Linked DNA regions of Homo sapiens: regions 1, 2 and 3 are each linked to region 4. Evidence: fine-mapped expression QTL. A gene starts in region 4. Each other region holds a variant in brackets. All regions are shown on one strand. Distances are from middle to middle. Region 1 holds the start of LOC124902918 (a long non-coding RNA gene). Region 2 overlaps ABCD2 (ATP binding cassette subfamily D member 2). Region 3 overlaps SLC2A13 (solute carrier family 2 member 13). Region 4 holds the start of KIF21A (kinesin family member 21A).

Region 1 (8,104 bases), 100 kb before region 4:
ATTGTTGATGCTTTTCCTGACTACCAAGTTCAGGGCTGGTTTACATTTCATATTGTGAAATTTTCAAAACCAATGGTCTATTTATAAGCCAGAATTGTATTAATGAAAATGAATGAGAAAAATGTCCTTAAAGGTAAAAATCATTATGTAGCTAAATGAAATTGTGGCTGTGTGTGAGTACATTATAATATAATTTCCATCTGATGTGTATTTACTTGAACTCATCATTCCTTATGAATTCCTTAACCATTAAGAAAAAGACTAGATTAATCAAAGGAATTACAAATTATTCCATTTTTACAAAATACCCTGTTTCTATACTGCAAATGGCCATGTTGGGTATATGTCTATATACGCCTTACTTAGACATTGTATTGTATATAACCGTGTGTAGAACTATAGACAATAGTCACCAAATAGTTATTTAAATATTAATTTTCTTTATTAATACAACACATTTAATAAGTATCTACCTATGCCAGGCACTGTGCTAAGTTCTATTACTAAATAAAATTTGGTCCCTGTCCGAAGATGCTTGTGACCATTGAAAATTAGGAAAATGAATGCCCTCAGTCAGACAAAAAGTCAACAGCTGGATTTATTATTAGTACTTACCAAGTAGGCACAAATCATTGCATTTACAGACTTCACCAAATCTTTGTAGGGTATAAACAAAATGCTAATTTAATAAAAGAGGAAAATGAGGAGAGAAAGGTTAAGTAATTAATCCAACCTCATACAATACCCAAACTATAGAGCTGAAATTTGACATGAGCAATATTTGATTATAAAGCCTATGCAAGTCCACATAACCTTCTTTTAATTAGTTTAGGTCATTTTTCATTATTACTATTTTTAACGTAAATATTAAGTATAATTTTTACTGACTCAAGGTTTCTGGTTAACCAAACAGATAGATGCACTTTTCATCTAAAAAGGGAACTTATGTTACACTTTGTATTTTTTTTATTTTAAATTATGGGTGTGGTCCTATGGGAGAGGGAGAATATAAGGCAAATTTTCAAAAGTTTTGAGGCCCTGGTTGTCATTATTCATTCACTGATTCAGTAAATACTTGTTGACACTTCCATGTACCAGTTGCTATGCTAGGGATTCAGAGATTAACAAGACAGTCCTTGTCAGAGCCCTCATGAAATATTTTACTATATCAATATTAAACAAATGTATGCCAGTTAGATGTTGTGACTCCATATAAATGACTTACTTGTTTTGTAGTATCTTCTCAGCTCTTGTATTTTCTATCTAAGACCACTCTGTTGCAATTTAAGTGATAAGCATATTCTGGCAGCAGGATTCCCTCAATAATACACTTTTGGGCTTCACAATCTTCATGATCTTTAACTTGGGCTATTACAAGTTCCAACAAAACCAGTCCTTAGGACTATATCATCCTTTGCCAGTAGATGGTCCTATGTATTTAGCATGTTGTCTTGAAACCTAAGAAACCGCTTCTCAAGTTCAGATCATGTAAAACTAGCCAGTTTTATACATTCAAAGGTAAGTCTCGTATGTTACCACAAAACTCAGATAAACATAGCAGGAAAGTTCTAAAAAGCAAAAGAAAAATAAACAATTATAGTTGTGTTATAAACAAGGATTCCAAAGTTAATAATATTTAAAGTTACATAATTTGTCTCAGTACTTGTGACCCAATATAGAAACAAAAAGATTAAGTATTCACTTATGAGTTTTTATGTGATTTAATATTATACCTAAAAACAGATTATGTAGCAATGAAGCAATGAAATACTGATAAACATGAAATAATATTAACTTGGCTATATCATTTAATTTTAGTCAGTTTAATCCATATAAATAAGGGGTAACCTTATATATGAAGTATATTTAATTTGTATATATTAAATATATTAAATTTAATTAAAATGCATTGGACCTACAAATGTATAAAACTAAAGAATTTTCTGATGACTCACCTGGGAAGGTGCAAAAGAGGTCTTATAATCAGGTGACAGCTTATGGAAAGCTAATATAATGAGACCTTTTTCAACATGCAGATGCTGATATTTCCAGAGTGACAAAGACCGATGAAGCAATTGTCAAAGTCCCCTTTTTTAGGCTAGCTCATTGTTTATATGAGACAAGTTTCCAAGACTCACATAGGTAGGGTATAGATAAATGAGGTTAATGTAGATCCAAGCAGCTACAGATGCTCCTTGACCTAAGAGGGGGTTACATTTTGATAAACACATAGTAAGTTGAAAATATCATGAATCAAAAGTACATTTAATATACCTAACCTGCCAAACATCATAGTTTAGTCTCGCCTACCTTAAATGTGCTCGGTTGCATTACATTAGCCTACAGGTGGGCAAAATCATCTAGCATCATAGTGCACTGTAGAGTATTAGTTGTTTACCCTTCTGATCAGTGGCTGACTGGGAACTGAGGCTCACTGATGCTGCCTAGCAGTGCAAGAGAGTATCATACTGCATATCTCTAGCCCAGGAAAAGATCAAAGTTCAAAATTGGAAACTGGAAGTACAGTTTCTACTGGATGCATATCACTTCCACACAATGGCAAAGTTGAAAAATCGTAGGTCAAACTCTCATAAGGCAGGGACCTTCTATACATATATTTTACAACCTGACACACATACACACATGCACATGCACATACACATATACACACACAACCCCTTAGAAGTTTATTACAAAGCAGCATAAATATTTTGAGGACTTAAGTTACTGAATTCTTTTTTATTTTGGTAAAAAACACATAACATAAAATTTACCATCTTTAACATTTTTATGTGTACAGTTCAGTAATGTTAACTATATTCATATTGTTATGAAGCAGATGTTCAGAACTTTATCTGGCAGATCTGAAACTCTATGTCCATTAAACTCTCCTTTTTCTCCAACCCCTAGTTCCAACTAACCACCAGTCTACTTTGTTTCTATGAATTTGACAACTTTGGATACATTATATAAGTGGAATTATACAGTATTTGCTTTTTTGTGACTGGCTTATTTCATTTAGCATAATGTCCACAAGATTCCCCCATGTTGTAGCATGTGATAGAACTTCCTTCCTTTTTAAAGCTGAATAACAGTCCTGTACATGTATATACCATATTTTGCCTAATCATTTACTTGGGTTGCTTCAGCCTCTTGGCTATTGTGAATAGTGCTGTGTGAATATGGTTGTACGATTATCTCTTTGAGACCATGTTTTCAGTTCTTTTGGATATATACCTAGAAGTGAATTGCTGAGTTTTTATTTGTGTGTGTGTAGAATCTCCATCCTGTTTTTCCTAGCTGCTGCACTATTTTACAGTCCTACTAACAGTGCACAAGGGCTCCAATTTCTCCACATCCTTACCAGCACTTGTTATTTTCTACTTTCTGTATAGGAGTCAATCTAATGAGTATGATGTGATATCTCACTGTAGTTTTGATTTGCATTTCTCTCATGATTAGTGATATTGAGCATCCTTTCATATGTTGTTGGTCATTTGTATATCATCTTTAGACAAATGTCTTTTCAAGCCTTAGCCTGAAAAAAAAATTTTTTAATTAAAACTTGTTTCATGGTATTTAAGGCCCACCATGATCTGGCCTCAATTTGTTTTCTCTGCTTCCAAATAGCTGTTTCCCCTTATCCTTCCTCCATTCCTCTGTTCTTCATTCCCTTGACTGGACACAGTGGGTGTTCCCTTTTGCTTTTCCTCTTACTCATTTTATTTTCTCAGCCAACAATGCCCTTACCCTACCATCTTCATCTATCAAAACCCTATCTAGCTTCAAGGACATTTAAAATTTTTTTTCAGTTGTATATTTTCCTTTATTATGACTATAGAGGACTTTATTTCAAATCTTACCATTACATTTATCATATGCTACCTTTTATCATGTATCTTCCCTAACCACTCATTCATTCATTCAACCAATCACTATTTATTTGTCACATAATCTCAGACTATTCAATCTAAAATACTCCCCCAACCAGTCCTTCTTCAACACATTACCCAGTTTTATTGTTCATGTAACTTATTATTATCTCCATTTATCTTATTTATTTATATGACAATTGAATCTAACTTCATATAACCTCCACCCTTCTTAGACTATAAGCTCTGTGGGGTAGGAATCTTGCTTGTCTTATTTAGTTAGTATTCATGGCACCTAGAACAATACATGGCAGATAGGGAACACTTGAAAAGTATTTATTCAATAGGTGCCTAAATGCATGAGTGAACAAATGAATACAAATGGAGCAAAAAATAAAAAATGTGAATGAAAAAATAAAGGTTAATTTCTGAGAATGAATAAAATTACTGTAGGAGAAGAATATTAAAAAGTGCACTCACTCCTTCATATTCTTGTGTATTAAACCCACATTATTAGGTAAAATTATAATGTGCAGTTTTTTCTTTTCTGCTGAACAGAAAAATTAGGCATCTTGGGAATTTCATAATATTTATTTCATCTACTTTCTTTCCTCCTCTCCAGAATAAATTAAGAATTAACTCACTGGTTTAAATCTTCCCAACAGGATGGTGATAATAAAAGTTTTACAAACATTTCTTCTAATTCCTTGATTCAATAGAAAGTAGATATTACAATAACTATATAAATGGACTATCTAGCTCCATGTTTTCCTCTCTCTTTGAGTCCCCAAACTGTATATCCTTCCTCTTTCTGCTTCTTTGGGTAGCTCTCAACATCCCTCAAGTCAGGTGGACAGGTCCAGGAATTCATAGATCCTATACTCTTACTATTATCAAGCCAATGACCATAAAGAGGTCTTTCCTCAAATTAGAGTCTTTTTACTTTCTTTTTGTGTTTGTATAAAAAAAACTCAATGCCAACAGAACAACCTTACCCTAATGGCCACAAGACCTGATCACAACAATGAAAAGGTCAATTCACA[G/T]CAGAAAGCAAATTTTCACCAATAATAGAGCCTGTTAGAAATACAGCACCTCTTCTCACCACCAGCCTTAGGTATCGGCTTGAGTGATGATTAGGTACACTAGCTTTGGAGAAAGACTGCTTGGTGGGGTCCTGCCTCTGTTATCTCCCTGCTGAGAATGTTATATAACCTCTTCATGCCTCAGGTTTCTCATTTTTAAAATGGAGATAATAATGGCACTTACTTCATTGCATGTTGTGAGGCGGGAGAATCGCTTGAACCCGGGAGGCGGAATTTACAGTGAGCCAAGATTATGCCATTGCACTCCAGCATGGGTGATAAGAGCGAGACTTCATCTCAAAAAAAAATCTTACCTGAGATTCCTCATGGAACAGAGTCCTATCTAAGCCAAATTTTTGAAGGCTTTATTTTTAGGCTTTGTTAGTCTAAGTGAAAAATAATTACTCTTGCTGCACTTCATGCAAATAATCAGGCCAAGTACAGGAAGACTAAAGTTTATTTTGTAAACAAATTAGTTCTACCATGATTTGTTTTTAATAAAAATGGGGACTAGAGAGACAAAAATTATGCTTCAAAAGAAAAACTATAGTACACTGTTGTTAGCTGTTTTTGAGGTGTTTTTCTGCAGTTTAAGCTAAATTCTAAATTCTTTGTGGATTAGAAGTCCCCAAACTAATGCTTTCAAATCTTTGCTTTTAAAATTGGAAATTGTACTACTCATCCTAGGACTCGTTATTTACCTTACAGTAGGCTGTTCACTTAAACACTGTAGTAAAACTGTAGATAAGAGTACTAATGTTTCTGCCATGCAAGCCTTGGAAGCTCAACCAGGCCTGCATGAGTACACTCAGACAGTTGCAAAGCAGTTCCACTCTTCTCACCCTGGGGTTCACTCCCATTCCCACTATGTCTCCTGTCAGCAGGAAGAAGCCAGAGCGATCCACAGCCTTTTCCTATCTTCATAATCTACACCTTAAGATTAAGGTGTTATAAAACCTAAAGGGAGGGATTGAAACCACCTTTGCAAAATTATGACGGAGACAGTGAAAGAGATCTAACTTAGCTGACTCCATCTTGCTTCTAACCTCCAAGCTGTCCTTGTTCATTCCTGGGTGTAGGCTGAAATAACTTTGGGATAAACTTAGTTTATAGTTTACACTTTACACAAAGACAGTAACAGCCCTTTCCCAAAGCAGACCTCCTTCTTGCCTGGGGACTAGATTGTCTTTGTAGGATGAACATTAGCCACAAGATTAGAAATTATGGTTTACGAGTCATGTAGCTGGAGGCTACAAGATTCCTACCCTCCCTAAACTGCTCCTGAGATCAGTGCTTGAGATATTTTGCAGACCCTGCACTTGATGGATCAGCTGGCATCACCCAGATCAATAAACTGGCTCATCTGATCTCGTGGCCCCCACCCAGGAACTGACTCAGCACAAGAAGATAGCTTCGACTCTATGATTTTATCCCTGACCAATCAGCACTTCTGGCTCACTGGCTTCCCCCCACCCACCAAGTTATCCTTAAAAACTCTGCTCCCTGAATGCTCTGGGAGACTGATGTGAGTAATAATAAAACTCCAGTCTCCCACACAGCTGGCTCTGCATGAATTACTCTTTCTCTATTGCAATTTCCCTGTCTTGATGAATTGGCTCTGTCTAGGCAGTGGGCAAGGTGAGCTCCTTGGGTGGTTATATCATTAGAGAAGGACGTATAATTTTGTGGGAGAGGTAGTCCTTTTGAGTTAAAAGACCCCAAGTGTGAGCTGATAGAGGATACTGAACTAGTGCTCAGTGTCTGATGCATAGTAGTTACTTAATATATGTTTGTGGAATAAGTAACAGAATGACTGAATGAATCCATAAATAAAGTATTAACAGAAAAAAGGGAAAAGGAAATAGGCACATGCCAATAATAAAATTGCTTTCTTTGCAATTGGGCTAAGGTTCCAAACGTCAGATGGCATGTTGCTGAAATTGTATGGACTTTCTCTCTTTGCAACAGATCCTACTGGTTACTAAAGCCTGGATTGTATGTAAAATAATGTGTCCAAAAAGCTGAAACAAAAGCTGAAACACTAAGTTCTTCTCAATTCCGTTTCTCCAGTCCCAAATTTGCTGGTGTTCCTACACAATTTTAATGTGTCCACATCATGCTTATATCTTTCATACAATCCCCACAAAGGAAAAGGACATAAGAGAGCAAGGGACTTGGAAAAAAAGAATAATAAATAGAAAGATAAGGAAATGAAAGAGAGATGGTAATATATGACTGCAGCGGCAACAGAAATTATACTTAGAGAGGAGAGGAGTAATTCTGGAGACCTATGACCTATGACCAAGGGTCCAAATGTCACGCTGGCTTCCCTCATCTCTCTCTCATCTTCTCAGATGAATTTCCATGTTCTCAGGAAACTCTGGGCAGGTGAATATTGAAAATTCTCTGTCCTTATAATGGGATGAAAAATTGGATTTTATCACAATCTTTATTGATATTTTGACTTAATATGATAAGTCAAAAACTATACTGATCATACCCATCTGGCAAAATTCCAATCATGTGTGATCCTAATCACTGGTTCTCTTCATATGTGGAAAAGAGCAGCTGAGTGCTGCTGGAGCAAGTCACTCTTCGAGGTAAAATATTCACTATAAATTCATGATGATCAACTTCAAAAGATTTGTCAGCACCATTCAGCAATCCTCCTGTATTTCTTTAGTTCTCTCACTGTTCCACTCTGTACAACTGGTCTCAAACTTTTCCTGCTCTCTGAACAAGCCCAGTCCTCCCCTCCCTTCTTTTCTCACAGCTGATCATTGGCTGACCCTTTACATTTCTGCCACCAAACGTAAAAACTGACCCTTATCCTCATTCATTCTATACTTTGTCCCTTTTCATAAACATAGCATTGCCTATTTGCCTACCTAATTCAGTCACCCCTAGAACTCATCCATGACATCTTCTTGCTCTTCATACTCCACAGCCAATTCACCATCAAATCCTATTCATTGTGACCCCTAAATAACAGCCCTTGAATAAGTCCTCTTCTCTCCATCTTCACCATTATTAGCAAGGTTCAAGAATAACTGTTTTCTCTGACCTGGACTACTGCCATTGCTTTCTAACTAATCTCTCTACATCCATTCATTAACTCTACCAATTTATTCCTTTTTTTTTTTTTTTGAG
Region 2 (8,110 bases), 130 kb before region 4:
TAATTTTTGTGTGTACTTTTTAAAAGACCAAAATATGCCTTGCTGGATGAATGTACCAGTGCTGTCAGCATTGATGTCGAAGGAAAGATATTTCAGGCTGCAAAAGGGGCTGGAATTTCCTTACTGTCTATAACACACAGACCTTCTCTTTGGTAAGTGTTTCTAGTGCTAATTTGTGGTAGATGGTTTTTCCTTAAATTTCTCAAAAAATAACTTTGCTAAATTTTTCACAGTAGAGGGTAGGGTATTTCACTTATTTTCTACCCATATTTCTCTTAAGTTGCACATTAGTAGCTTAGATACTCCCTACCTAATATCATTAGTGTATTATTTGAATTATCATCAGTTTCCAGTAATTCTTAAAAGACATGGAAAAATCCAGTGATTTATTTTAATGGAAAATATTTATCATTACCCAGTAACATGTACTGGGAAAAATATATTTATATATTTGTACATCATTCTTTTAGTCCTTTCTCTAAAACCCAGGAAAGTAAAATCTGGGGAAAAAAATATATGTACACACAACTTGATACTCCCCCAAAGGATTAAGTGGAGAAAACACAGGTGGTGGTGGGGAAGGGGGGAGGGCTTATTTTTAGTTGGTTTAAAGAAAAATGAGCTAAATTTTTTTAGAACTAATATCTCATAAAACCATATAGAATTTCCCCTTCAAATAAAGATGCTAATTTTACAATTCCCCTACTTTTCCATTGATTCATCATCATCATAATAGTTGAGCACTTATTCTGTTCCAGGTACATCTTATTTAAGCCTCACAACAACCCTGTGGAATTTAGGAAATCTAATCTTCCTATTTTACAGATGAAGAAACTGAGAACTAGAAAAGTGAGATACTTCCATGATCACATACTCTGTACTACAGCACACGGCTCTCATTATAAGGAACTCAAAGTGTATCTCATGCATTAACCATAAATACTACATTCTCTACTTTTGCATTTCTATTTAATCAATGAAAATTTTTTCTTTTGACTTCTTAGTAACTATAACTGTCTCTATATATGCTTTGGCCTCCTGTTTTCTAAAGGACTGCACAGGATTCCTCCTCTCTCTCTTTCTGGCTGCAGCATTCTGTGGCAGGTGGCTGATCAGATTTCATGCCAAAGTTGTCATGATGTACATGGCTTCAAATCTAGCCTAGTAGCAAGCATTATTGGAATTAATCCTTGAAGCCCTTCTAGACCTTTGACCTTATAAAGAATGTTTACATTAAAATTGTTAGCAAACAGTATTCATCCAATCAGGCTTTTATTGTTCAAAATTCTTTGACTCTGAGTTTCATTTATATTGAAAAGATAATCTATTTTCACACTCAGTTTAAACCTTCAGATTTTTCAGAATTTTTAAAAAATATACTTTCTGGATCTAGTCCAGCATGAGTTAGGATCCATGCCAATGAATATGCTTCCTCTGACTTTTATCCTGAAGAAGACCAACAGGACCTAGATCTTTAAGACAATAATGACATTTGCCTGTAAATCCTCTGAATCAAGGACAACACAGAGCTAGGCCAGTACTCTTGAGCCCTTTTTGGTATGAACCTTGATTTCCAGACTTTCTCCCAAATTAATCACATGTTGGGACATATTAGGCTTGGAGTTTTTCTGACCTGTGTTAATGGATTTATTATGCTATCCTGCCATTCAATTCCTTACTCAAGTAGCCTTAGGAGGCATTGAAAGCATATATAGCCATTGTTTCCTCAATTGAGGGAACAAATATTCTTTTTAAGTAAATAACAAAATCTGTAAGGCTATGCCTTTTGACAAGAAACACATTTTTAATTGCAGCTACCCAAGTACATTTCTCCACAAAACAAAACAACATGTTAGTTCTGATTTTTTTATTTAGCTTTGCCATTTCAGGTTGTCATTTCTGATTATTCTTTCTCTCAGGGAAAATAAAAATTTCATTTTCCCTGAATAGATTTCAGAAGTGGGGAAAGATGTGTCATATTTTTCCCATAACAACAAATGAGTAATTGTTGATTGTAAAGATTAAAATCAATACTAGAGTCTGAAGAAGTAAAAATTTATAGAAGCTTATTAAAATTTCTGATTCCTGGATAGAATTATAGCTGTATAACCATCACTTTCCTAAGCTTTTTCCTATTTGTGAAGGAAGTTTAAAGATTATCTCAAATGAGTTTCAGTTAAAATAGATAAACCCTGAAATATTATCTCAGCTTGTAATATAGAACATGCGTTTGAATCTCAGGGTATGAAACGCCTACACAGTTGGTTCCTCCCATGTAGAAATCAAATAATGTTGTAAGACCAGAGTGATGAGCCAAACCATCATTATACATCGAAGGTGGTGTTTGCCCAATATATGAATGACCATGTATGAGTGAGATCATGTGGTATTTGTCTTTCTGTGTCTAGCTTATTTCACTTACTATAATGTCCTCCAGGTTCTTCCATGTTTTTGTAAGTGGCGGGATTTTATTCTTTTTTACAGTGGAGTAGTATTCCATCATGTATATATATAACATTCTTTATCTTTTCATCCATTGATGGACACTAGGGTTGATTCCATATGTTGGCTGTAAAAATAGTGCTGAAATAAACATGGGAGTGCAGTTATCTCTTTGACATACTGAGATCATTTCCTTTGCATATATTCCCAGTGGGGGATTGCTGGATCATTTTGTAGTTCTATTTTTAACATTTTGAGGAACCTCCTTACTGTTTTCCATGATGGCTATACTAATTTATATTCCCACCAAAGGTGTGTAAGAGTTCCCTTTTTTCCACATCCTCACCAACACTTTCTGTCATTTTCTTAATAGCCATTCTGACAAGAGTGAGGTGATTTGAATTTACCTAATGATTAGTGTTGTTGAGCATTTTTTGATATGCCTGTTTGTCATTTGTGTGTATCTTCTTTTGAGAAATGTTCATTCAGATCTTCTGTCCATTTTGTAATCAGGTTATTCATTTTCTTGCTATTTAGTTGTTTGAATTTCTTATATATGTTGGCTGTTATCAGATATATAGTTTCCAAATATTTTCTCCAATTTGATAGGTATCTCTTCATTCTGTTGATTGTTTTCTTTGTTGCACAGAAGCTTTTGAGTTTGATGTAATCCCATTTGTCTATTTTTACTTTTGTTGCCTATGCTCTTGAGGTCATATCCAAAACTCGTTGCCCAAATTTCATTGTCATTTCAAATTTATATCCAAATTTCATTGTCATGAAATTTTTGCCCTATGTATTCTAATAATTTCAGGTCTTGCATTGAAGTCTTTAATCCATTTTGAGTTTGTTTTTGCATATGGTGAGCAATAAGGGTCAAATTTCATTCTTCTACCTGTGGATATACAGTTTCCCACAATTTATTGAGGATACTGCCCTTTCCCAATAGTGTGTTCTTGGCAACTTTGTTGAAAATCAGTTGACTATAAATACAAGGATTTATTTCTGGGTTCTCTATTCTATTCCTTAAGTCTGTGTGTCTGTTTTTGTGTCAGTACAATGCTGTTTGGGTTGCTACAGTTTGGTAGTATATTTTGACACCAGGTAGTGTGATGGCTCCAGCTTTGTACTTTATGCTCAAGAATTTTTTCACTATTTTGGGTGTTTTGCAGTTGCACACAAATTTTAGAATTTTTTTTCTATTTCTCTGAAGACTATCAT[T/C]GGCATTTCCATAGGGATTGAATTGAATATGTAGATCACTTCGGGTAGTATTGACATTTTAACAATATTAATTCTTCCAATTCATAAACATGAGATATCATTTTATTTGTGTATGTGTGTCTTCTTCGATTCCTTACATTAATGTTTTATAGTTTCATTGTAGAGACCTTACACCTCCTTGCTTATATTTATGCCTAAGTGTTTAACTTTTTCTAGCTATTGAAAATGGGATTGTTTCCTTGATTTTTTTCACATAATTTGCTGTCAGTGTAGAGAAATGCTACTGATTTTTACATACTGATTTTGTATCTTGCAACTTTCCTGAATTCATTTATAAATCTAATGTTTTCTGATGGAGTCTTTAGTACTTTCTATATATAAATGTGGTACATAACATTAACAAAATGAAGGATAAGAACATGTTATCTGGGGGAGTGGAGCCAAGAGGGCTGAATAGGAACAGCTCCAGTCTACAACTCCCAGCATCAGCGATGCAGAAGACAGGTGTTTTTTGCATTTCCAACTGAGGTACCGGGTTCATCTCACTGGGGAGTGTCAGAAAGCGGGTGCAGGACAGTGGGTGCAGACCACCGAGCGTGAGGCGAAGCAGGGCGAGGCATCGCCTCACCCAGGATGCACAAGGGGTCAGGGAATTCCCTTTCCTACTCAAAGTAAGGGTTGACAGACGGCACCTGGAAAATCGGGTCACTCCCACCCTAATACTGCGCTTTTCCAACAGTCCTAGCAAACGGCACACCAGGATATTATATCCCGTGCCTGGCTCGGAGGGTACTATGCCCACGGAGCCTTGCTCATTGCTAGCACAGCAGTCTGAGATCAAACTGCAAGACGGCAGCAAGGCTGGGGAGGGGTGCCCGCCATTGCCAAGGCTTCAGTAGGTAAACAAAGCGGCAGGGAAGCTCCAACTGGGTGGAGCCCACCACAGCTCAAGGAGGCCTGCTTGGATCTGTAGACTCAACCTCTGGGGGTAGGGCATAGACAAACAAAAGGCAGCAGAATACTCTGCAGACTTAAATGTCCCTGTCTGACAACTTTGAAGAGAGCAGTGGTTCTCACAGCACACAGCTGGAGATCTGAGAACGGACAGACTGCCTCCTCAAGTGGGTCCCTGACACCCAAGTAGCCTAACTGGGATGCACCCCCAAGTAGGGGCAGACTTACACCACACACAGCTGGGTACTCCTCTGAGAAAAAAATTCCAGAGGAATGAACAGGCAGCAACATTGGCTGTTCAGGAATATTTGCTGTTCTGCAGCCTCCACAGCTGATACCCAGACAAACAGGGTCTGGAGTGGACCTCTAGCAAACTCCAACAGACCTGCAGTTGAGGGTCCTGACTGTTAGCAGGAAAACTAACAAACAGAAAGGACATGAACACCAAAACCCCATCTGTAAATCACCATCATCAAAGACCAAAGATAGATAAAACCAGAAAGATGGGGAAAAAACAGAGCAGAAAAACTGGAAACTCTAAAAATCAGAGCACCTCTCCTCCTCCAAAGGAACGCAGCTCCTCACCAGCAACGGAACAAAGCTGGATGGAAAATGACTTTGACGAGTTCAGAGAAGAAGGCTTCAGATGATCAAACTACTCCGAGCTAAAGGAGGGAGTTCGAACCCATGGAAAACAAGTTAAAAACCTTGAAAAAAAATTAGACGAATGGCTAGCTAGAAAAACCAATGCAGAGAAGTCCTTAAAGGACCTGAGGGAGCTGAAAACCATGGCACGAGAATGAACATGGTGAATGCACAAGCCTCAGTAGCCGATTCAATCAACTGGAAGAAAGGGTATCAGTGATGGAAGATCAAATGAATGAAATGAAGTGAGAAGAGAAGTTTAGAGAAAAAGGAATAAACAGAAATGAACAAAGCCTCCAAGAAATATGGGACTATGTGAAAAGACCAAATCTACATCTGATTGGTGTACCTGAAAGTGACGGGGAGAATGGAATCAAGTTGGAAAACACTCTGCAGGATATTATCCAGGAGAACTTCCCCAATCTAGCAAGGCAGGCCAACATTCAAATTCACGAAATACAGAGAATGCCACAAAGATACTCCTCAAGAAGAGCAACTCCAAGACACATAATTGTCAGATTCACCAAAGTTGAAATGAAGGAAAAAATGTTAAGGGCAGCCAGAGAGAAAGGTGGGGTTACCCACAAAGGGAAGCCCATCAGACTAACAGCTGATCTATCAGCAGAAACTCTACAAGCCAGAAGAGAGTGGGGGCCAATATTCAACATTCTTAAAGAAAAGAATTTTCAACCCAGAATTTCATATCCAGCCAAACTAAGCTTCATAAGTGAAGGAGAAATCAAATCCTTTACAGACAAGCAAATGCTGAGAGATTTTGTCACCACTAGGCCTGCCCTAAAAGAGCTCCTGAAGGAAGCACTAAACATGGAAAGGAACAACCGGTACCAGCCACTGCAAAAGGATGCCTAATTGTAAAGACCATGCAGACTAGGAAGAAATTGCATCAACTAATGAGCAAAATAATCAGCTAACATCATAATGACAGGATCAAATTCACACAATATTAACCTTAAATGTAAATGGGCTAAATGCTCCAATTAAAAGACACAAATTGGCAAATTGGATAAAGAGTCAAGACTCATCAGTGTGCTGTATTCCCCAGACCCATCTCATGTTCAGAGACACACATAGGCTCAAAATAAAGGGATAGAGGAAGATCTACCAAGCAAATGGAAAACAAAAAATGCAGGGGTTGCAATCCTAGTCTCTAATAAAAGAGACTTTAAACCAACAAAGATCAAAAGAGACAAAGAAGGCCATTACATAATGGTAAAGGGATCAATTCAACAAGAAGAGCTAACTATCCTAAATATATATGCACCCAATACAGAAGCACCCAGATGCATAAAGCAAGTCCTCAGAGACCTAGAAAGAGACTTAGACTCCTGCACAATAATATTGGGAGAGTTTAACACCCCACTGTCGACATTAGACAGATCAATGAGACAGAAAGTTAACAAGCATATCCAGGAATTGAACTCAGCTCTGCACCAAGCAGACCTAATAGACATCTACAGAACTCTCCACACCAAATCAACACAATATACATTCTTCTAAGCACCACACCACACCTATTCCAAAATTGACCACATAGTTGGAAGTAAAGCACTCCTCATCAAACGTAAAAGAACAGAAATTATAACAAACTGTCTCTCAGACCACAGTGCAATCAAATTAGAACTCAGGATTAAGAAACTCACTCAAAACCGCTAAACTACATGGAAACTGAACAACCTGCTCCTGAGTGACTACTGGGTACATAACAAAATGAAGGCAGAAATAAAGATATTCTTTGAAACCAATGAGAACAAAGACACAACGTACCAGAATTTCTGGGACACATTCAAAGCAGTGTGTAGAGGGAAATTTATAGCACTAAATGCCCACAACAGAAAGCAGGAAAGATCTAAAATTGACACCCTAACATCACAATTAAAAGAAATAGAGGAGCAAGAGCAAACACATTCAAAAGCTAGCAGAAGGCAAGAAATAACTAAGATCAGAGCAGAACTGAAGGAAATAGAGACACAAAAAACCTTTCAAAAAAATCAATGAATCCAGGAGCTGGTTTTTTGAAAAGATCAACAAAATCGATAGACCGCTAGCAAGACTAATAGAGAAGAAAAGAGAGAAGAATCAAATAGATGCAATAAAAAATGATAAAGGGAATATCACCACTGATCCCACAGAAATACAAACTACCATCAGCAAACACTATAAACACTTCTATGCAAACAAACTAGAAAATCTAGAAGAAATGGATAAATTCCTCGACACAAACAACCTCCCAAGACTAAACCAGGAAGAATTTCAATCTCTGAATAAACCAATAACAGGCTCTGAAATTGAGGCAATAATTAATAGCTTACCAACCAAAAAAACTCCAGGACCAGACGGATTCACAGCCGAATTCTACCAGAGGTACAAGGAGGAACTGGTACCATTCTTTCTGAAACTATTCCAATAAATAGAAAAAGAGCGAATCCTCCCTAACTCATTTTATGAGGCCAGCATCATCCTGATACCAAAGCCGGGCAGAGACACAACAAAAAAAGAGAATTTTAGACCAATATCCCAGATGAACATTGATGCAAAAATCCTCAATAAAACACTGGCAAACTAAATCCAGCAGCACATCAAAAAGCTTATCCACCATGATCAAGTGGGCTTCATCCCTGGGATGCAAGGCTGGTTCAACATATGCAAATCAATAAATGTAATCCAGCATGTAAACAGAACCAATGACAAAAACCATAAGATTATCTCAATAGATGCAGAAAAGGCCTCTAACAAAATTCAACAACCCTTCATGCTAAAAACTCTCAATAAATTAGGTATTGATGGGATGCATATCAAAATAATTAGAGCTATCTATGACAAACCCACA
Region 3 (8,110 bases), 560 kb before region 4:
ACCCTGGAGCTTCCTGTCATCACCACCACCCTGCTGCTTTTTATGCCTTAGTAAAATCTTTTTGGCTTCTCTGTTCTACTTTTATTAACAGAATTTCAGATAAGAGAATGTTGTTATAAGGAATCATTTTAGCAGGTGTGTTACTATATTTAGTCTAAAATTTTAAAAAATCTGGATAGGTTTTTTAAAAAAAATCCTTAAATGTTTTGAGATGCTGATTAGTTCAGAATTATACATATGTTGGTTTAAACTAGTTGAATCTTTTGATGCTGTTTAATTACCTCAGACTCTACCTCAGAAGTAGAAAGTGCTTATATTTTAAATCTGGGTTTTCCCGTAAAACCCATTGTATATTATAAAAGTAATATAGATAAGGCGTTTTTCCATGTATGGAATCTTTAAGGCTGGTAAACGATATCTTCCTTCTTTGAATAGTGTTTCTTCCTTTGAATAATTATGCTACCACTCATATTTAATGGCTTCTATGTGTGAGGTATTGTGCCATATTTTTTTCTTTTAATTCTTACAGCAAGCCAAATAACTAAAATGTGAACTATTATCATTTTATAGTTGTAAAAATTGATAGAGAAGTTAACAATCTTGCCCAAGTTTACCCTGTTAGGAAATAGAAGAACTAAGAATTCAAAACAAAGCTTATCTTATTAGAACAGTATACACTCTTCAATGTACTATATAAGGATACCCTTTTCCATCATCATTTAAAAACTATGTGAGTCTAGTTCTGGGATTATGCTTAATTTTAAAATAGTAATGACCTTTTTTTAAAAAAAAGTTTTAAAGTTGTTTTCAGCAGCAATTGTAAATAAAATAGTTTGGTGGACAGTCAATTAATTTTGTGTGGCTTTTTTTTGGATAGCAAAAAAGAACTTATGAAGTTTTAGAATATTTATACTATTCTTGAACTATTTACTGATTCTTCTTTCATATACTTACTAGACCGTGTGCTTAAAATTTTGAATCTTTAAAAGTAATGCAAGTTTTTTATAGAAAATATGACAAATAACCTAATGTATAAGGAAACAAAAGTTTCTGCAATTCCATCACTGTTTCTAATAGAAAATTATGAATGAGTTCCCTTCTCGCAGCATCTATGTGCCCACTTCACATTGGGCACTTCTCTCAGCCACAGAGCAAAGGTGGGAGGGGCTCATTAGTTTCAAGAAATTCTTATACTGGGTCAACTTTAGTAAGAAAGAAAGAAACGAAAGTTGAACACACATGACTGTTAGCTAATTAAAAGATGTGGCTCATCTTCTTTATAAATAAATAAACTGATTAGTGACCCATTGCTGGAAACTGGAAGAATCAGAAGTAAGTGTGCATCTGCTAGCATTACAAATACTCAAATGGGAATTTCTTTATATTATTAATGATTAAATTTATGAAGGAATTAAAAATATGATCTTGGCAGCAGAGAGTATGAATTTGTTATGTGTATTTGAGATCTGTCTAGCCGACACTGTAGACATGGGTTTATTCTTGTAAACCACTTTTTCTCCAGAGAGACTTGAGTGAACAGGTGGGATTGCTTCCATTGATAGGAGGATAAGGGAAGTGAGTACAATGTTTATATCTAACTGTACTTGCTTCCTGCACTTCTGATATGGAGACCTTCACCTAAATCTTTACTACTGTTATTGTCTTAATACCTCTTTTTCTTTGCTTAGACTATTAGAAAGAAATTTTACCTGACTCTTAGAATTTATTCATTATTTTGTTACTATATTTTCATTTTAACATAATTTTCTTACTAATAAGCTTACATTTAATGAACATAAACTATGTGCCAGTTATGGTGGCAAATGCTTTACATGCTTTGTTTTGTTTAATCCTTACCACATCTCTTTGATAGAGATTCATATTATTGACTGTTTTCTGGAGGAGAAGTGGAGGCTAAGGAAAGAAAAATAAAATTAACCAAAATGTTACAGCTGATAGAAGACAGAGGCAAATCTCTTGCCCAGATATACCTGAGATACAAAGTCAAGTATTCTTGCCACTCTGTTACAGCTTATACATTTCAAAATTTCTTTTTGGAAAAAAATAATATTGTATTCTTATGTTTTCCCAGTGAGCTCCTGTAAACATTTAGGTTTCATTTTAATCCTGCGTTATTAATTTCAATTTTGTATTTTGCCTAAGTATTAGCTGACTGTATGGGGTTATTAATTTATACTCATATGGTGGGAAGTTGAGTATGTTTAGACTTAAAACATTCATGTACTGTTTTTCTTTTTCAAATTTTAACCCTGTTTGATTGAAATTATTAAATCATCTAGAAATGTGATTCTCAACCTTGGCTGATCATTGGAAGAAGCAAAAACTGTGAAATCAGATTCTCTGAGGTAGGGCCTTACGTTGGAAGCTTCTTAATTATACACATATGCAGCCAAGGTTGAGAACCACGGACTTAAAATAGCCTTTGGTATCCACGGGGGCTTGATTCCAGGATACCCCTCAGATACCAAAATCTGTGATTGCTCAAGTCTCTGATATAAAATCGTATAGCCTTTTGGTGGCACACTGCCACTTAGTGGATTTTAGAGCAGTGGTTCCTAATTAGCATGCATCTGAATCAGTGGCAAGAGACCCTATTAAAACATAGATTACTGGGCTTCATGCACAGAACCCTGAATCAGTAGGTCTAACGGGAGGCCTAAGAATTTGCATTTCTAGCAAGTTTCAGGTGATGCCAGTGCTGCTTTTTTGGACTGCCCTTTGAGAACCACTTCAGATTTAGGTATCACTCTTTGAGAACCACTGATTTAGGATCTTACTTTCTGAGTTGGTCTCTTAAACTTCCTTTTAGTTTAAGTGATCACCATACTCCACTACCCACCAGATACACACCCACATACCCTTTGTAAGCTATCATTAAGCATTACTAGGAGCCTCCAGATGCCTGCACTAATACTAAAGGGTAGTTGTACCTCTGGATGAGGGATTTGTTGTGGCTCACCTGGGGACACTTCAAATGAACTTCATTCTTCCCTTCCTCTATTCTGTGAAGTATAAAGTACACAGATTAGTTTAGAGGTCTCTTCATACTGTAGCTACAGGCCCCTTTTTCTTTAACTCTTCAATAATTTTGAAAAATCTCAAAAGTTTAATGTTTTCACCCCTAATTTCTCTTGCTAATTTGTTTCTAGCAAAAATGTGTCTTTGTCAGCAGTGCTGGTAAGTGATTACAGATAAGGTAGGGTTAGGCAGTACCGATGACCCTCCAACAACATGGGTTTGAACTTACAGGTGGATTTTCTTCCCCCGCCACCTCTGACACAGCAAGACCAACCCCTCCTCTGCCTCCTCTTCCTCATCCTACTCAGTGTGAAGACAATAAGGATAAAGACCTGTACGATAATCCCTCTTCTACTCATTGAATAGAAAATATATTTTTCTCTCTTATGATTTTCTTAAAAACTTTTTCTTTTTTCTAGCTTACTTTATTGTAAGAATACAGTATATAGTACATATGACTTAAAAATATATATTAATCAACTGTTTGTGTTATTGATAAGGCTCCCAGTTAACAGTGGGCTATTCGTAGTTAAGCTTTTGGGGAGCCAAAAGTGTTTAAGGTGCCATCTTGAAAACCAGAGGCTAGTAACATGATCTTCGACATTTTAGCCTCTAGAACTGTGAAAAAAAAAAAAAAATCTGTCCTTTACTCATTGCCCAGTCTGTGCTACAGTCATTTTTTGGTATCCATGGGGGCTTGATTCCAGGATACGCCTCAGATACCAAAATCTGTGATTGCTCAAGTCTCTGATATAAAATGGTACAGTGGCCGGGTATGGTGGCTCATGCCTGTAACACCAGCACTTTGGGAGGCTGAGGTGGGTGGATCACCTGAGGTCAGGAGTTTGAGACCAGCCTGTCTAACATGGTGAAATCCTGTCTCTACTAAAAATACAAAATTATCCAGGCATGGTGGCACATTCCTGTAATCGCAGCTACTTGGGAGGTTGAGGCAGGGGAATTGCTTGAAGCCAGGACATGGAGGTTGCAGTGAGCTGAGATTGCACCATTGCACTCCAGCCTGGGCAACAAGAGTGAAACTCCATCTCAAATAAAATAAAATAAAATTGTATAGTATTTGCATATAACCTATGTACATCTTCCCATATACTTGAAATAATCTCTGGATTACTTATAAAACCGAATACAGTGTAAATGTTATGCAAATAGTTGTTATACTATCTTTTTTTAAATTTGTATTTTGTATTTTTATTTTTTGTGTTTTTTGGGAGGAATTTTTTGTTTTGTTTTGTTTTTGAGATGGAGTTTTGCTCTCATTGCCCAGGCTGGAGTGCAATGGCGC[A/C]CTCTCGGCTCACTGCAACCTCTGCCTCCTGGGTTCTAGCGATTCTCCTTCCTCAGCCTCCCAAGTAGCTGAGATTACCGGCGCCCGTCACCACGCCCAGCTAATTTAAACTTTCTGTGCTTCGGTGTCCTCATCTACAGAAAGGGAATAATACTCCCATTTTGTAGAATTTTTGTGTGTGGTATTATATGAGAGAATGAGAAAAAATGTCTGGTACTTTGTAATAAATTAAAAATTCAATACATTTCTAAATGTATTGAAAAAAAAAACCCACGATGATACCTCTTGAGTGTTTCTTCTCCTTGGAGATGACTTGCTTTTTTATAGAACAGGGGTTAAGGCATATTAGGGGCCTGGCATGTCATTAGTCCCTTCAGTAATACACGTTGATAGGGAACCAACAGATTTAGCTACCCCACGATATAGCATATCCAAGGCTTAGATTTATAGATTCAAGAACATTTAAAAATATTTGTCTATGGGGCACCTCTGACGGTTGAGTTTTGTTATTGCCATCAGCGCCCACTCACTTTTTGGTTAAGTGTTGTTTTTGTCTCTCCTCTTCCTTGGTCCTTGGAGATAATCGTTATAATTTTAATAAGCTAGCACTGCATTAAAAATGATATGCATTGAAATTTAAGATTCTAGTTGTTAAATAGGGTAATTCATATACTATTCTTTTTGAAGTGGAAGTTGAGGCTAGCATAATTCATAAACTCCTTCTCAATAGGTATTGCTTTTTAAAAAATTAACTTTATTCCTGATTATATAACTGTTTTAATTTACATAGTTGTGTTGGGTGAACTGTATAAATGTCCATATTTACAGGAGTGGTTCCCAAACATCTCTCCCTGTCCCAGTCCATTATGATGGCATTATTATTCACCAGGGGAGAGGGTGGTTGTGGAGCACAGAGCAGGGCACTGAGCCAGTGACCAATACGCCTAGCGTGAGGGCTCCTTTCCAGTGTACAAATCATGGATGTAAATTATTAACCCCTAGTTTGCTTTTTTTGGCTAACAAAATATCATTATGTCACTGGCTGTCAAGGAGAGTGAAAAGCAGCTTTATGAAGTTCCTTCTCCCATTTTTTTTTTTTAGGGGAATATACACTATACTCAGCCATACCCTAGAAATCAGAGCCCCATACATGCTAGGCATTTTTGTAACCTTAGCCTATGCCATCATCCATATTAATGCCTTTTAAAACTTCCTCTGTGTCTTTACCTTCCTCAGTGGACTTTGAACCCTTCACGGGGATGGATTGTGTCATATTATTCTCAGAGTCTCAAGGACCTAAGAGAGTTCCTAGCTCATGACATGTGCTGAGTAGTTTTGCTGCATGAAAGAATTTGAATTGAAGATCATTTGTTCCTTTTTAAAAGACTTTTAGAGGAAATTCCATGACCTCATTCATTCATTTCATGTTTAATAGTGCATATTGCTTACAGATTTTATTTATTTTGTTGCTTTCTGAGCCCATCTTTCAGTCTGTTTTCAGTTGTGATAGGCAATTCATTCATTATTCTTTGTATTTGGGATCAAGGCATTAGAGAGATGTGTAATACAGACTTTGGAGTCAAACAGAGCTGGGTGTGAATTGGGACTTTGCCACTTTTTAAATGTTGTTGTTGGATACATTACTTAACTTCACTATTGTCTCTTCATTTGTAAAATGAGTATGAAAAAGTACCCACTATAGGATAATTATGAGGACTGAGTGAGGCAGTGCACACAAAGTTCTTAGGCTGGCGCATAATAAGTGCCCAATACAACAATTTTTTATTGTAGTTGACGTTTAGATAGTTGGTTTTCAATAAGCATGTTTTTCTTAAACCTGATTATTTAAAGTCATCCAATGATTCATTTGTTTTCCTTAATTTCAGTTGTTAGTTGGAGAAATGTTTACAGCCTAGTGAAAATGTGTGCGGTAGACCAGTAAGATCACCTACTTAATAAAATCATCTATTTGCTAGGTTAAATTTTGCTCTGTATTATTAATTATGGAAATTGATTTTCTTGCTTTGAAACTTTATTATGTTTACCCAGTTATTTATCCTAGTGAAATAAATTATCAACGAAAATGCTGCTTCTAAAATTTTCATTGGGATGATTGATAACTTAGAAATGTCATATTTATTGAAGAAATAGAATTATTTTTATTCAGAACAAATTCACTTTGTGATTATGCACATTTAATTTTATTTATAGACTTTTACATCCCAGTGGTGCTAAGTGAAGTGAATTTTGCAAGATCATAGTTTCAGTGCCTTGAATGTCATTAAGTCCCAAGAATAAAGAGTGCTGACTTAGATGTCAGAAGACTTGCATTCTCATTCTGATTCCCTCAGTTCTTAGTCTGTGACCTTGGGCAAGTCATTTAACTACCAAGTTTCATTTTCTTTATCTTTTCCTGCCTTGTCTACCTCACAGAGTCATTGGGAGAGTGAAATGAAAAAATATTTAAGAATGGTGAAGACTGTGGAAATTAAAGATATTATTTTTGGTGTAAGGCAATTTTTAGAAAAGATAACAGCATGTAGGCTAAGACAGTGAAAATACATCCATTCACCTGACTTTTTATTCCAAATCAATATCAGAAATATTCAAGAAGTGTCTTTAATGTCTTTTTTATAGCTCACTTTGAAAGAAAATTTACAAATTACAGGGTGGCTTGTTATTTGTGTTCCCCTCTCCAGTATGTGCTGCCAGTTTGGATTTTGGCAATGCAGTTTTTTGTTGTCGTTAAGGCCCACTTTGAGTGAATGCTAACATCAGCAGATAGAGTTGAGGAAACTTTCTGAAAACAGCTAAACATACCAGTGCTTATCCATTGAGTGTGTGAGTCAGGAGACTCCTGTTTGCTTGGTCATGTTGATGTTTACATATGCTAAAATAATTTCTCCTGAGTGTCCATGCCCTCTCTTATCATTTCTCCTCTTGGTGAGGACCTGGAGCTTTTGGACATTGGGGAATGCATTGCAGCCTGTGTGTGGCACTCATTGGCCGGCCAGCTAGCCTTTTTTAGTGTTTACTGTTCCACTGGGATTAAGTAGTGAGTGGGGCTTCATGTAATAAATTGTGTCCCCTACAAATTCATATGTTGAAGTCCTAACCCCCAGTTCCTTATAATGTGACTACATTTGGAGATAGAGCCTTTAGAGATGATTAAGGTTAAATGAGGTCATATGAGTAAACGCTAATCACTATAACTGCGATTCTTATAAGAAGAGGAAGAGGCACCAGGGATTTGCACACACAGAGGAAAGAACATGTCGGGATACTGCGGGAAGGTGGCTATCTGCAAGCCAAGGAGAGAGAGGCCTCCAGAAAAACCAAACCTGCCAATGCCATGATCTTGGACTTTGAGCCTCTAGAACTGTGAGAAAGCAAATTTCTGTTTAAGCCACCCAGTCTGTGGTACTTTGCTATAGCAGCCCTGGCAAACCATTACATGGAGATCCCAGGTGCTTGGCACTACCAGGTGTATGTGTCGGTCATTAGGACTGTGAAAAGCACCTTAAAAGACCTGATGACCTTAATGTAAATTGAGTTTCAGTTTAAATTTAGTAGAGGGTAGAGGTTCACAGATTATATAGCCTGTTACAGCCTGTAAGTTTTTGGGTTTTGTTGCTGTTGTTGTTGTTTTTTAATGTAGAGCTAATGGTTTATTAGTCCATTTTCATGCTGCTGATAAAGACATACCTGAGATTGGGCAATCTACAAAAGAAAGATGTTTAATAGACTTACAGTACCACATAGCTGGGG
Region 4 (8,092 bases):
CAGGGTAGCAAGAGAGAGAATGAGTGCCAAGTGAAGGGATAAGCCCCTTACAGAACCATCAGATCTCATGAGAACTCACTCACTATCAGAACAGCATGGTGGAAACTGCCCCTGCAATTCAACTATCTCCACCTGGTCCTGTCCTTTGATGCATGGGGATTATCACAAACAAGGTGAGATTTGGGTGGGCACACAGAGCCAAACCATGTCAGTAAAAGGAAAGGTAAAGACGGGACAGAGTAGTTTCCTTTCTTTTCAGTTCTTCCTTATTAATCTGTAAGTCAAAGGTAGGAAATGTTATTAGCATATGTGTGTATGAAATAAAAACAGTTGAGTTAGTTTTGTGCAGTGTTTCTACTGTTAAGAATAAAATGCATGTATGAATTATGAAATAAGTTGTATAATTTTTATAATCCCATGTAAGAGTTAAATGCTCTTCTGTTGATACTTAAAACCAGCATTGTACACTATAAAGATGAATGGAGAAAGTCATGGAAATATCTAAAACTTTAACTTTTCTTTCTGGAGAATGACATTAAATAGCAAATAAAAAACACCGTGACACAAGAGAGCTTAAAGGAAGGGGAAAAACTTTCTATTTTCGTACCTTTCATATCATTTTTATCTTCCTTTTCTTACAAGATCCCTCACATCTTCATTTTGTACCGGGTTGTGCAAATCAGGTAGCTGGTCTTTGTGGGGGTGCTATTTTAGACTGGGTGATCAAGAGAGGCCTCTTTGAGAAGACAGCATTTAAACTGATAACCTAGAAATTAAAAAAAAAAAAGCCAACGATGGGAAGGTCTGGGGAAAGAACATTCCAGGGAGAGGGTATAGCTAGTGCAAAGACCCTCAGGCAGGAAAGAACTTTATGAGTTCCAGAAATAGAAAGAAAACCAGTCTCACCAAAAAGTAGTTGTTAAGGTATAGAGTGGCAAAAGGTGAGGTCAGAGTTGGGGCAGGGACAGTGTGTGAAGGTCTTAAAGTGTAGAATAATTTATTCTATTTGTGTTAGTAGCCATTGGAAGGTTTCAGGCAGAGAAATGACATAAATGACTTATGTTTAAAAGGACATTATTCTGGCCAGGCACAGTGTCTCACACCTGTAATCACAGCACTTTGAGAGGCCAAGGCAGGCGGATCACCTGAGGTCAGGAGTTCGAGACCAGCCTGACCAACATGGCGAAACCTCGTCTCTACTAAAAATACAAAAATTAGCCAGGCATGGTGGTGGGTGCCTGTAATCTCAGCTACTCAGGAGGCTGACGCAGGAGAATCATTTGGACGCAGGAGAATCATTTGAACCCAGGAGGCAGAGGTTGCAGTGAGCCAAGATTGCCCCACTGTATTTCAGCCTGGGCAACAGTGAGACTCTGTCTCAAGAAAAAAAAAAAAACCAACAAAAACATTATTCCTGCAATATGAAGGCAAGAGTGGACTCAGGGAGACCATCCTGTGCAGTTTATATCTGAAGAATTCCTTACCCGTCCAGGTAAAATTCATCGTATTTCTCTCGTAATTTCTGTTATTCCATTTAGTATTTTCAAACATATCTTCCTGTGCTAGACAGTAAACTCCTTGTAAGCACTGACATTGTCTTATTCTTCTCTAAATCACTGTTGTCCCTCACTTTGTTTGCATATAATCACTTAAAATATTTATTGAGTCAATGATTGGAATAAGACTTAAACCACTCTTGCAGTAAAAGCTCTTCCCTTGGAACTTTCTTGAAATTAAGAAATTAAGATTATTTAGAGGAGTCATGGCCAGGCGCGGTCACTCACGCCTGTAATCCCAGCACTTTGGGAGGCCGAGGCGGGTGGATCACGAGGTCAAGAGATCGAGACCATCCTGGCCAACATGGTGAAACCCCGTCTCTACTAAAAATACAAAAAGTTAAGCCAGGCGTGGTAGCAGGTGCCTGTAGTCCCAGCTACTCGGGAGGCTGAGGCAGGAGAATGGCGTGAACCCAGGAGGCAGAGCTTTCAGTGAGCCGAGTTGGTGCCACTGCACTCCAGCCTGGGCGAAAGAGTGAGACTCCAGAGCGAGACTCCAGAGCGAGACTCCATCTCAGAAAAAAAAAAAAAAAAGAGGAGTCATAAGGAAAGGTGTTATAGCAGCTGTAAATGAATTGGAACTAAATACAAAATAGTATGTTAATTTTACAACTTTAGAAATTTGGGGAAAAATTACTGACTAGGTCATTAATGAGAATTTGAATTTCTACACTGCCTCTTCCTGAAACCATGTGCAATATGAACCCAAAGCCACAGCTGTTATTGGTGCTAATATTTTGTCCAGAAGTTCCAGCCTGGTGTCTTGGGACTAAAGTTGGCCTGAGACATATTTTGTCTGGTTTGCAGCATATGTAAATATTGTGCTGAATTAGTCGTTGGTGTTTAAAACTAAGGAGTTTTTTCATAAAGATCTGTTTTTCTCTTTTTCTTGAGAAGCAACATACATACAAGAAATAAAAATCTTGGCAGCATTGGATTTGCATTTCATCAAGGCAATATTCAGCCAGAGCTGAGGATGGCCACCACCTTTGGAAGGGGCCTGTGTCTCTATTTTATGATAGTCCTCACCTTTATCATAGTATTCATCTTGCTCTGCTCTTTTGAGCTACCTGCCTGGCTCCTGTAGGCATTTGTGTTTGTGACTCCCCTTACTGAGACATATATGTATACTATTGTTATTTAAAATGAGAACTTTTTTTGGCCAGGTGAGGTAGCTCATGCCTGTAATCCCAGCACTTTGGGAGGCTGAGGTGGGCGGATCACTTGAGGTCAGGAGTTTGAGACCAGCCTGGTAAACATGGTGAAATCCCATCTCTACTAAAAATACAAAAATTACCTGGATGTGTTGGCACATGCCTGAAATCCCAGCTACTCCGGAGGCTGAGGCACGAGAATCCCTTGAACCCCGGAGGAGGATGTCGATGTCGCAGTGAGCTGAGATCACACCATTGCATTCCAGCCTGGATGACAGAGCGAGACACTGTCTCAAAAAATAAAATAGGCTGGGTGTGGTGGCTCATGCCTGTAATCCCAGCACTTTGGGAGGCCGAGGCGGGTGGATCACAAGGTCAGGAGTTCAAGACCAGCCTGGCCAATACGGTGAAACTCTGTCTCTACTAAAAATACAAAAATTAGCTGGGCATGGTGGCACACGCCTGTAGTCCCAGCTACTCAGGAGGCTGAGGCAGAAGAATCGCTTGAACCCGGGAGGCAGAGGTTACAGTGAGCCGAGATCACGCCACTGCACTCCAGCCTGGTGACAGAGCAAGACTTTGTCTCAAAATAAAATAAAATAAAAAAGAACTTTTTTTAAAAAGAGGGTCTTAATTATACAAATTTCTCTTTAGTTTTCTTGTTAAATGTGCTGGGCCATTCTTGCTTTCCTTGCAGCTTTCATCAACAAAAGAAGCAAGGTGGCCAGCCCAGATCCACCCAGATATGGGCTTGCCAGGGCAGGGTGAAATGCAGCTCTGATTTGTTGATGGATAAATTTTGAGGCTAGGAAAGGCCCTCCAAAGAGTAGCCAGAGGAGAGCTTTCCCACCAATTTGATCTATAGAAGGATACTCAGCATCTCTGCCCTCTTTACCTCCCAGTTACATGTCTGTTAAGATTTAGGGGTAGTGAGATTAAGGGACAGAATAAATTTAAAACTATCTATAATTATATACCCCATCGGCCTTCCCATGGGTTTAAATCATCAAACACTTCTTGTTTTTCCCATAGTGTTGCAGCCTTCTCTGAGCCACACTGCTGTATCACTGCTGAACAAGATGATTAGGTATGTGATTGTAGATTGCAGGCATTTGAGGTAGTGCCTTTATTTGGATAGTGCCATTTAATTTGTGATACTATTTCGTATGAAGCCACATGTTTGTTTATAGAGATGTATGGAGCAGTCCACAAAAGATACTCTGTGGCAAAGCTAATAAAGGCTGTTTCCACAGAGCTATCTGAAGGCATGTGGAAGCACAATAGTGACAAACAGAAACCACAATGGGTCAATGTTGAGAGAATCCTGGGATTGGGAGGTGCTTTTTAAAGGCCAGAAGGGAAAGAAAATCAGTTTGGAAGGATTTACTACACAGCAGGTCTTGGTGGATATATTCAGTTCTGGGAACACTTGGCAGTACCAGGGTGCAGTTCATTTACCAGTGTACAAATGATTGAACAGAAAAGCATTCAGGAGTCTCGAATAAATCATTTCCATATCCCACCCGAGCTGGTAAACGGGCGATGAACTGTAGAACAGCCCAGCTGTCCAGAGACAGTGGACAAACCTGGGAGTCCGTTTAGCATGAATGACTGACTCCGGGGAGGGAGGAGGGAGGGCGTTCAGCTGGGGGCTAGGGAAGGGGGTCAAAGTCCAAGCTGCAGAGAGGACAATAAGGCTATGCGTGGGACACAAAGCCGAACCGCAGCAGCAGCTGCCTGGCTCCCGGCGCGCCGCTGAATCAAGCTTCGATTTGAGAAGGGACCTGGCAGCAGCGCGTGCACTAGCTGCTTCCTTCTCCCAGAAGAGCCTGGAAGGGCGCACAGGCTGGTCGCCCTCGGGCGAGGGCAGCCGGCGGCAGGCATCCCTCCCCCTCGCCTCCCTGCCCAGCAGCGCCAGGCAGTGTCCCGACGAGGGCAGGGCGGGGCGCAGGCTGGGGGAGGGCGAGGTGGGGCTGAGCCGCGCGGCGGCGGCTGACGCAGTGCGGGGCGAGGAGCCCGGAGCGCCCTGGCGGGCGTGGAGTCCCCAGCCTGGCCGCTGGGAGGCCGCGTCCCCACCGGAGGGGGCAGGGCGCACTCACCCGGCCGCCCTGAGGCCGCTGGCGGCCTGTTGGCTTCTCCACAGGCGCGCTCGCCGTTCAAGCGCGCTTTGTCCCCGCCCCAGATCCTGGGGGGTGAGCGGTGGAGAAGGGGCGGGCGCCCGCGAGCCGTGAATCACCTCCTCCTCTTGCTGCCTCAGCGCCGCCGCCACCTTTCCATTCAGTCGCCCAACATGGCTGGAGCGCGGCGGAGGTGAGCCGGCCGCCCGCCCGCAGACGCCCCAGCCTACTGCGCCCGAGTCCCGCGGCCCCAGTGGCGCCTCAGCTCTGCGGTGCCGAGGCCCAACGGCTCGATCGCTGCCCGCCGCCAGCATGTTGGGCGCCCCGGACGAGAGCTCCGTGCGGGTGGCTGTCAGGTGAGGACAGTCTGCCGGCGGCGGGCGGCGGGCGGCGGGTTGAGGGCGCGGCAAGGACCTGGCTGTGGCGCGGAGCACCGGCTACCGGGGTGGAGCGACCTGAGGGGCGTCCCGGCCGGGTTCTGCGGCTGAGGAAACTGAGGCAGTGAGTCCCCGCTGGCCTGGCACGCGCGGCCGGGTGCTGGCAGGGCGACTGCGCCGCCCTCACGCCGTCTGTGTTTGCAGGTGGCTGGCGGCTGCGCGGCGCCGGGTCCCTGGGGGGCGTCTTGACTTCTCTGGGGGAAAAGCCCTCGTCACTCCCCTCCGTCCCCTCGCGGGATCAGTCACCTCAGGTCTGGCCGCCTTGGGCTATCGCCTGTCCGGGAGGAGCTGCCTGTGCGCGGGGCTGTGGTGTTCTTTTTTATTAGTTCTAGAATGTCTGTCATACGTGTCCATGCAGCTCCGGCCTTCCCAGGCAGGAGACAAAGCATCTGACTATCAGCGCCGGCGACCGCAGGGCCCGCCGCGCGCCCACTCGGGTTCTGATGTCTGTGCAAATGAGACATCTTTTTCAGCATCACGGGGATCTAGACATGCCCCCGCGTGTGGGTAGAGGAGACAGATCTAGCCTCTTGGGTGTTGGAATGGGAGTGGAATTTAAGGTAAAATCCACTGGGGAGAGGTCTACAGAAGGAGGAAAACTCTTTAGCCAGAGGAAGGGTGAAATGGGTGACTGTGTGAAACATACTGACATTAGGCAGGGTGGATACAATGTAATCGTAACGTTACCCAGGCCAGGGTGTGAGTCTGGAAATACTAGGTACATCCTAGTATTGAAATTATATTTCGGCCAATGACAGGCACGAGTATTCGATGTAATTTCGGCTGTTTTGATACTTATCAAGAAGGAAAGCTCTGATAGTTGCTCATGGAAAATTGCAACATCATCACACTGTGTGAAAAATTAATGAAGCATTCATCCTAGAGTAAGTGCGTGGCTTTCACAGCTCTGAGAGTCTACTGTTAATTCACTTCTCCTTATTTATGCTTTAAGGATTATAAAAATAATCTACACTCCAAGGAATTAGGAACTATTAACAATCTCCCAGTCTTGTAGTCTTTCCAGAAAATTATTCTAAAAATTCTCCCCTCTAAACATTTCTATAGTTACTATTTTAGTGACACATCTTGGGTCAGGCATAGTAATGGCTGTTTCGTATACTTTGTATCTTTAATTAACTTAAATAATAAAATGAGTTTTTAAGTGTTTTTTTTTTTTTTTTTTTTACCACCCAGGGAGGTGACAGTTTTATGACTGGTTAGAATCACCTGTTATAAGGCTTTTGAAGTTTTAATTAGGCCTTCTTCGTTATTCTAGGGCTACTTATCCAATTGTTAGATTAGTCTGTTTCTCCTATTCACTGCTACTACCTCTCTTTTGGCCCTTTAATACCAGTTAATGACTGCACCAGGGTGGAGAAAGGGGAAGGAAAAAGACAGAAAACCCAATAAGAGGCAATTTTGTTAGGAGATCTGATCAAGGAAAGTGAAGAAGGTGCATAAAATATTACTGAAAACAGACAATTTGTCTGTTTTTAGACGTTTGAGATTTTTATATGTGAATTCTCTAGACTATCACAAGGCAGTTTGTTGACCATTCTGTTAAATCCGATGCTTCTTTGCCTGTAGAGCCATGGATGACCCTAAAGTGATGCTGACTGATAAATAACTTGTATTTTGTTTTGGTGTGTATGTTAGGACTTTTTAGGTGAATGAATGTGGGTTTGATTTTTGGGGAAAGGCTTTATAAAAACTTCAACATAACTTAGTAAGCCATATTGTAAAGATTCAATTTGTTGAATTCAGGATTCCTTCCTTCCTTCCTTCTTTCCTTTCTCTTTCTCTCTTCTTTCCTTTCTTCTTTCTTTTTTTTGAGATAGGGTTTTGCTGTGTCACCCAGGCTAGAGTGTCGTGGTGCCATCATAGCTCACTGCAGCCTCAACCTCATGGGCTCAAGCAATCCTCTAATCTCAGCCTGCTGAGTAGCTGAGATCACAGGCATGTGCCACACTGCTTGGCTAATTTTTATACATTTTTGTAGATATGGGGCCTCCCTATGTTTCCCAGAGTGGTCTTGTACTCCTGGGCTCAAGCCGTCCCTCCCAAATTGCTGGGATTACAGGCATTAGCCACTGCGCCTGGATAAATCGGGGATTTCTTTCATTAAATACATTGTTCTCTGAACAGAGCTACCTTGTAAACTTACTTTATATAGGATAAAAATAGCTTATACTCATATAGCACTTTAGTATTTATAAAGTGTTTGGACTTATATTGTTCATTTATAACCATTATTTATTGAAGATATATACCCGTCTCTGTTATCCTGATTTCTGGGCTAAAAGTAGTGATAATTGTTTGACTTATACTGTGTGCCGGGATTAGTGCTGTGTTAAGATGTTTTATCTCATGTAAAGTCTTATTTATTCCTCATAACAATCTGTGACTTAGGTCCTGTTATTATGGCCATTTACAGATGAGGCACAGAAAGATTAAGTAAACCATCCAAAGTTAAATTGGTAACAAATGAGAGAGCCAGGGTTCCAACCCAGATAGCTTGACTCAGTAGCCCAAGTTCTTAACCATTAACCCTGCGGAAGTGAGAGGCAAGAACATGGCTTTGCAAAGTTTCACTTAGCTTTGGGTCAGTTGCCTGTTCTTGATTTTGTATTAGTTCATTTACAAATGAGTGGCTTTCACAGGTTATTCATATTTTGATATTGCTAGAAAAGATAGAACTAAGACAGGACCTGAACTTACTAAAATATTTCCTCAAATTATTTAATCTTTCCAGCTTCCTGTTACCCTACCCTTCAGTTTGAGAAGGGTTCCTCAGCAGAATAAATAAATCAATACAAAATCGTGTGTCT

Evidence for each region. PIP is the estimated chance that this variant, and not a neighbour inherited with it, causes the effect.
Region 1: its variant is fine-mapped to the expression of KIF21A in skeletal muscle (GTEx, PIP above 0.99).
Region 2: its variant is fine-mapped to the expression of KIF21A in subcutaneous fat (GTEx, PIP 0.93).
Region 3: its variant is fine-mapped to the expression of KIF21A in whole blood (INTERVAL, PIP 0.91).

Annotation. Positions count from the first base shown.
Region 1 is chr12:39,542,459-39,550,562 of GRCh38, reverse strand. ABCD2 (ATP binding cassette subfamily D member 2) reads left to right here. Exons shown (of 10, transcript NM_005164.4): 10 at 1-530. It overlaps LOC124902918 (a long non-coding RNA gene), which reads right to left and starts at 4,297. Exons shown (of 2, transcript XR_007063277.1): 1 at 1,956-4,297; 2 at 581-1,568. The variant G/T (reference allele first, on the strand shown) is at 4,916.
Region 2 is chr12:39,565,758-39,573,867 of GRCh38, reverse strand. It overlaps ABCD2 (ATP binding cassette subfamily D member 2), which reads left to right. Exons shown (of 10, transcript NM_005164.4): 9 at 27-152. Among named protein-coding and RNA genes, the nearest start is that of ABCD2, 50 kb to the left of the region's middle. The variant T/C (reference allele first, on the strand shown) is at 3,664.
Region 3 is chr12:40,000,180-40,008,289 of GRCh38, reverse strand. All of the region lies in intron 3 of SLC2A13 (solute carrier family 2 member 13), which reads left to right. Among named protein-coding and RNA genes, the nearest start is that of SLC2A13, 100 kb to the left of the region's middle. The variant A/C (reference allele first, on the strand shown) is at 4,343.
Region 4 is chr12:39,440,018-39,448,109 of GRCh38, reverse strand. KIF21A (kinesin family member 21A) reads left to right here and starts at 4,990. Exons shown (of 38, transcript NM_001173464.2): 1 at 4,990-5,183. The coding sequence starts at 5,140. LOC124902919 (a long non-coding RNA gene) reads right to left here and starts at 954. Exons shown (of 2, transcript XR_007063278.1): 1 at 608-954; 2 at 1-274. RefSeq lists enhancers at 4,320-4,379, 4,661-5,161, 5,980-6,049 and a silencer at 4,460-5,359.